Homo sapiens: one gene and its partner. The protein of the gene in region 2 purifies or fractionates together with the protein of the main gene of each other region. This does not show direct contact. Each region holds a gene or a part of one and is shown on either strand. Other genes may lie near its edges.

Region 1 (3,500 bases), about 63 Mb from region 2:
CCTGAGCTCCCAACATATGCACATGCATGTACACACACGTGTCCGCCATATACACACATGCATGCATGTGGGTATATTTGATATACTCAATCCCTTCCCTTGATGGGTTAGACTCTACAGCCTCTGTGGCAACAGCCCACAGTGGGTACTCACGAATGTCTACTGTGTCCTGCTGCAGCTGGTCCAGAAGCCACCCCCAGAATTAGAATTTAAGCATGAAAAAATGCCCAGGGAAATCTGTGACTTGTTGCTAAATCCTAAACACAGTTTGTGTATCCAGTGCTCAGCAGAGGGCTTAGCACATGACAGGTGCTCAAGAAAACACCTGCTAATACAAGGGCACAATCAACACAGAAACATTTCTAAATGTCCAAAATCTTTTTTGTACCAAAGCAAAATCAAAACCAAAACAAACAAATAACAACAAAAAACCTCCAGGCAGTTTGTTTTCCTGAATATTTAACCAAGGAAGTATATCCCAGCCCTGAGGGTGGAGCTACTCCTCCAGAAGTCACCCACAGCACCCATACCCCCAGGCAAATGGCTGGCAGAGCCACTCACCTCTGAATTCCCCTTTCTCCTGGCCCATACACTCTACCGGGCTGTCTGTACTCTTCCGGTTAACTGTTCGGGAGGGAATCACTGCTTGAACACTGAAACAGTAGTTTTCTCCTTTATCCACATCAATCAAAAACTCATTAGTGTTTGTTTTGGCTGTTTTCTGTAAAAAGATAGAGTTCTTAATTCATCTGGGCTCTGAGTCAATTCTTTCCCCTTTATTAAGTCACTGTGGAAGTAAAAACCTAGGTTCTAAGCAAAGCCTACAAGAACACAGCTGACACGTGAAGGATTAGAAGTGACTTCGCTAATCAGTTTCCCTTGATCACTGCTAAAAATGCCTTTTCCAAGACTGAGAAGATCCAATTTAGGCATATTGAACCCTATTGAGCCCCTTTAGAAGATATCTGCAGTAAAAGAAAAAGGAAGGGAGTATTATGCATTGAACCAAAAACAAATTTTGTGCCTGGGATCCTCAATAGAGGGAGAAATGTGAGCATGGCGGGACCTTTAGAGATGACCTGATCCAGCCGGTTGGCTGAGGAACCTGGGTCTCCGAGGGGGCCCTGCCCAGAGTCACAGGGTAGTGCAGAGTCACAGGTAGGACCAGGCCTGTTGTCCACCCCTCCCCACAGTGCGCGCTCCCCCTTCTACTCCATCACCTTCTCAACAACTCTGTTCTGCTATTTTTGAATTGGGGAAGAAATGGGTTGTAAAACCCAAGTATTCACAATTTAAAACAGGTCATAAAAACAAATTAAAAAATGCTCACCTTTCCTGAACTTGAAGATTTCCAATAATAAAGTGTATAAATTAAGTCCTTGCCAAAAACATCCCGGAGGCTTAGGAAAGTGTTGTTCCTTCTGACTAAAGTCCGTTCATCTTCTACGGTCACATTCACTTTTGTTCCCACCTGTTCAAAACTCTGAATTGTTGGCTGTCCGAGGTTTGCTGAAACAAAGGAAATGAGCTTGGTTGGAACCAAAGAATTCTGTACAAAGTCAAATCCTGTTTTGTTATCACAATTGACAACTTAATTATCTCTCATATAAAACATGTGCATAGAACCAGCTCCCTGAAAGAAGCAGGCGTGGCGGCCTGGAGCTGAATCCTAAGACATTCTGTGGTAGTGCTGGCCCAAGGGGAAGACAATGGAGCCTCAGATGTCATTTTAAGTTTTCTAGTAGTCACATTAGAAAAAGTAAAAAGGAACAGGTGAAATTAATTTTAATAATATATTTTATTTAACCAAAGACAGTTGACCCCTGAACAACATGGGTTTGAACTCTGTGGATCCACTTGTATGCAAATTTTTTTAAATAAAAGTTACACCAAGTGTGCCGCCTCCTACTTCCTCCATCTTTTCTCCTGCCGTGGCCCCTGCTCTTCCTCCTCCTCCTCCTCCTCAGCCTACTCAACATGAAGATGACGAGGATGAACACCTTTATGATGATCCACTTCCACTTTATCAATAGTAAATATATTTTCTCTTCCTTATAATTCTTTCTCTTCCTTCCTTCTTTCTTTTCTTTTCTTTTCTTTTTTTTCTTTCTTTCCCTTTCTTTTTTAGACAGAGTCTCGCTCTGTCACCCAGGCCGGAGTGCAGTGGCGCAATCTCAGTTCACTGCAACCTCCTCCACCTGGGTTGAAGTGATTCTCCTGCCTCAGCCTCCCAAGTAGCTGGGATTACAGGCACCCACAACCACGCCTGGCTAATTTTTGTATTTTTAGTAGAGATGGGGTTTCACCATGTTGGCCAGGCTGGTCTTGAACTCCTGACCTCAAGTGATCCACCCGCCTTAGCATCCCAAAGTTCTGAGATTACAGGCACGAGCCACCATGCCCAGCCTCTTTTCCTTATAATTTTCTTAATAACATTTTCTTTCCTCTAGCTTACTTTATTGTAAGAATACAGTATATAATACACGCAACATGAAAAATGTGTGTTAATTGACTGTTTATCTTATTGGTAAGGCTGCAGTCAACAGTCAACCGATAGGTAGGCTATTAGTAGTTAAGTTTTTGGGGAGTCAAGTTATACTCGGATTTTCAACTGCACAGGGAGTCGGTGCCTCTCAGCCATGCATTGCTTGAGTCAACTGCATATATCTGGAATATAATCATTTTAATGTGTAATCAATATAAAAAAGTTTTGAGATATTCTACACTTCTTAAATTCCAGTGTGTACTTTATACTTAGAGCATTAGCCATATTTCAAGTGGTCAACAGCCACATGTGGCTAGTGGCTACTATACTGAACAGGGTGGTAGCATAAACTACGATATTTTAGGTTCAAAAATATGTAGGGCTGTGAGAAAGCCCAGGAAATGTCCTTGGTACCTCGAGAAGCCGGATTTAACCACGGGGTCTCTGCAATGGCTCAATTATCTCATGTGCTTTGGTTAAATGACAGGAAAACAAACATCAATTCACAGGCCAAATATGTGTGTGCACATGCAAAACAAACACATAAAATATCTTCTATCTTGCACCAACAAAGGATTTGAAGTAGCTTACAAAAAAACTCAAGAACTATTAATATAAAAGAGAATCATGAGGATGCCATTAATTAGGGGGGAAATGAATGTCAACCATGCCACAGTCACCAGAGGGGCTGCTGACGCTGCTACATTCTTGCCTGGTGCCACAAAAGACACAAGCAGAAGCACCTGGGGGTCTGGAGGGTCTTGCAAATGGGGGCTCTGGGAAGGCAGCCACATTCACCTGGGGTCAGGCCCCCTATTTCAACCCTCAAAGTAGATACCAGAGGAGGATGGTTGGTTGGTTGTCCGTCCACCCCTTCTTTTCACCATTCCTACCTTGAGAAACTGTTCTCTCTCGCTGGGCCTAACACTCACACAACACCTTCATTCTAACCAGCTGGCCTTACAAGAGAAGCTAATTTCACTCTACTCAATGTGCTACATGCATTTATCTAAAT
Region 2 (3,500 bases):
TTTGCAGCAACATGGATGGAGCTGGAGACCATTATCCTAAGTGAATTAACACAGGAACAGAAAACCAAATATCACATGTTCTCACTGATATGTGAGAGCTAAACGTTGAGTGCATATGAACACAAAGAAGAGTACAACAGATGCTGGGACCTATTTGAGGGTGGAGGGAGGGAAGAGAGTGAGGATTGAAAAGCTACCTATTGGGGCCAGGCGTGGTGGCTCACTCACTCCTGTAATGCCAGCACTTTGCGAGGCCGAGGCGGGTGGATTACTTGAGGCTAGGAGTTCAAGACTAGCCTGGTCAACATGGTGAAATGCTATCTCTTCTAAAAAAAAAATACAAAAATTAGCTGGGCGTCATGGCAGGCACCTGTAATCTCAGCTACCCAGGAGGCTGAGGCGAGAAAATCGCTTGAACCCGGGAGGTGGAAGTTGCAGTGAGCCAAGATTGTTCATTGCACTCCAACCTGGGAGACAGAGTGAGACTTTGTCAAAAAGAAAGAAAGAAAAGAAAGAAAGAAAGAAGGAAGGAAGGAAGGAAGGAAGGAAAGAAAGAAAGAAAGAAGGAAAGAAAGAAAGAAAGAAAGAAAGAAAGAAAGAAAGAAAGAAAGAAAGAAAGAAAGAAGAAAGAATGAAAAAAGAAAGGAAGGAAGGAAGGAGGGAAGGAAGGAAGGAAGGAGGGAAGGAAGGAAGGAAGGGCTGCCTATTTGGTATCATGCTGATTACCTGGGTGACAAAATTATCTGTACACCAAACCTGCAAGACAACCAATTTACCTATGTAACAAACCTGCACATGTACCTCTTGAACCTAAAATAAACGTTGGAAGTAAAAAATAAAATAAAATACTAGCTTAAATGTTTACTATGTGGAAGAAAATTAATGAGTTCCAAAATTTATTTCACCTGTTGCAGTAGATAAGTGTAAGAAAGCGTTTTACAAAAGCTTCAAAGCTATCATTGAGATTCTGATGTGCCCCATGTTTGTCCTGTATCTGATAGGTTAAAATAAATAACACCTTACTGACATAGGTGAAACTTATGGGAGGAGAATAGGTAAAGCCAGGTGGTGCAACAAAGTTAGGTTTGAGGCATAGTAGTCAGGCAGATACAGGTTCTGGTCTGCCCTTTACTGGCTGAGTGAGCACAAAAAAACCCACTTAAATTCCCCAAGGTTGTTAGACATAGAAAACAGACACTTAGGCTGGGAGTGGTGGCTCACGCCTGTAATCTCATCACTTTGGGAGGCTGAGTCAGGCAGATCGCTTGAGCTCAGGAGTTCGAGACCAGCCTGGGTAACATTGTAAAACCCCATCTTTACAAAAAAATTAGCTGGGTATGGTGACATGGGCCTGTAGTTTCAGCTACTCAGGAGACTGAGGTGAGAGGGTGGTTTGAGCCTGGCAGATCAAGACTGCAGTGAGCCAAGATCGTGTCACTGCACTCCAGCCTCGGCAACAGAGCAAGACCTTGTCTCCCCCAAAAGGCACACTTTTAAAAATAACTTTTGATAATTACAGATAATATATGTAAACCTGCCATATGTGGATGACACAATAATTGGGTCACTGGTAATTTTTTTTGACTTGTGAAATATTAATAGGGCTCAGTATGACAAATCACTCTGATTTGTCTAAATTCTTGACAAATTAGAAATAATACATTACAAAAACATATAGTCATGCTGAAAATGCCAAAAGACACGGCAGCTTAAGGAATATGTTGGTTGTAAAAGGTAGATGTCTTCAAACTTCCAGTAATGGTTAATGAATGCATTTGAACCAATCTTCTACTAAGGACAACTAGAAAGGCTGGGCAAAAGAGTTTTAAAGTCTGTTTATAAACATTGAAGTGGTAAGAAGATAGTGAAGAATTGCTGAGAAAAGAGAGCAGAGAGGATCAGGGAGCATGAGGATAAGCCCACCCAGCATGGTTTTGCCCTTCCCCTGACCATGCCAGAGCACACAGCCTGGAGACCAGGGAATTGCCCAGCCCAGTCCACCACGACGGCACCTAACACTCCTCCAGGGGACCTGAGGTTGGGCTTACCAATTCTGCCACTATCACCACAACTGATACCTACCCGCATGCACCATCTGCAGGTCTGGAGTCTGACCTGCCCAGCCTATCACAGCCACTACCAACACCAGTATCCATTGTTTGGGACTCAGAGGGTGGACCTGCCACTGCCACTGCCATTGCCCAAACCATGCTGGCTGCCCAGGGGCCTGAGAATCCTTTCACCTGCCTGGCCCAGCATAGCCACTTCGGGTATGTGATTAAGTCACTTGGAGGACCAAGAATTGGCACATTTTTGAATACTTTTGGAAAAGTATTCGAATTATTGGGGTCCCAGATGGCAAAGACAGAATGAAAAGGTTAGAAAACCTATTTAATAAAATAATAGATGAAAACTTCCAAAGTCTAGCAAGAGATTTGGACATCCAGATACAAAACCTCTGAGATCCCCAAGCACATACAATGCAAAAAGGTCTTTTCCATGGCACATTATAATAAAACAGTCTAAAGTCAAATACAAAGACAGAATTTTTTAAATGGCAAGGGAAAAGCCTCTAGTCACCTATAAAGAAAAACAAAACAAAACAAAACAAAAGATACACTCCAACCTTCCAGGCCAAGAGAGAATGGTATAAAATATTCAAAGTGCTAAAATAAATAAAGTGCCAGTGAAGGAAACTAAATCCAGCAAAATATCCTTCATAAATAAGGAGAAATAAAATCTTTTCCAGATAAGCAAAAGCTGATACAGTTCATCACCACTAGCCCAGCCCTGTAAGAAATGCTCAAGGGAGTCCTAAGCCTGAAAGCGAAAGGACAATACTTACCATCATGAAAATGCATAGGTAAAGCCAGGAGGTGCAATAAAGTTAGGTTTGAGGCTTGGTCGTCAGGTACTGGCCGAGTAAGCATTGCAAACCACTTAAATTCCCCAAGATTGTTAGACGTAGAAAATACACACTAAGAGAAAAAACAACAAGGAATACACAAAACAACTAGACAACAATTAACAATATGACAGGAAGAAAACTTCACATATCAGTAATAACCTTGAATGTAAATTGATTAAATTCTTTACTTAAAATATATAGATGGGGTGCCGTGGCTCATGCCTGTAATCCCAGCACTTTGGGAGGCCGGGGCAGGAGGGTCATTTGAGGTCACGAGTTTGAGACTAGCCTGGCCAACATGGTGAAACCCCATCTCTACTAAAAATACAAATAAATTAGCCAGGCATGGTGGCGGGTGCCTGTAATCCCAGCTACTCAGGAGGCTGAGGCAAGAGAATCTCTTGAACCCGAGAGGTGGAATTTGCAGGGAGCCAAGAACACACCATTGTGCTCCAGCCTGGGTGACAAGAGTGAAAACTCCATCTCAAAAAACAAACAAACAAAGAAAAGATATATTTATAGACTCGCTGAATGGGTATTAAAAATGTTGCCCAACTCTGTGTTACCTGTAAGAAACGTACTTTACCTGTAA

Evidence for each region. The genes of interacting proteins can lie anywhere in the genome.
Region 1: the proteins of FCRL2 (region 2) and F3 purify together in Homo sapiens (affinity purification with mass spectrometry; one large-scale study listed by BioGRID and IntAct). This does not show direct contact.

The regions. Positions count from the first base shown.
Region 1 is NC_000001.11:94,531,760-94,535,259, forward strand, and holds part of F3 (tissue factor isoform 1 precursor), read right to left. Parts: intron 1,510-3,500; coding exon 1,331-1,509; intron 722-1,330; coding exon 562-721; intron 1-561. UniProt on the Homo sapiens protein: Initiates blood coagulation by forming a complex with circulating factor VII or VIIa. The [TF:VIIa] complex activates factors IX or X by specific limited proteolysis.
Region 2 is NC_000001.11:157,760,133-157,763,632, forward strand, and holds part of FCRL2 (Fc receptor-like protein 2 isoform 1 precursor), read right to left. Parts: intron 1-3,500. UniProt on the Homo sapiens protein: May have an regulatory role in normal and neoplastic B cell development.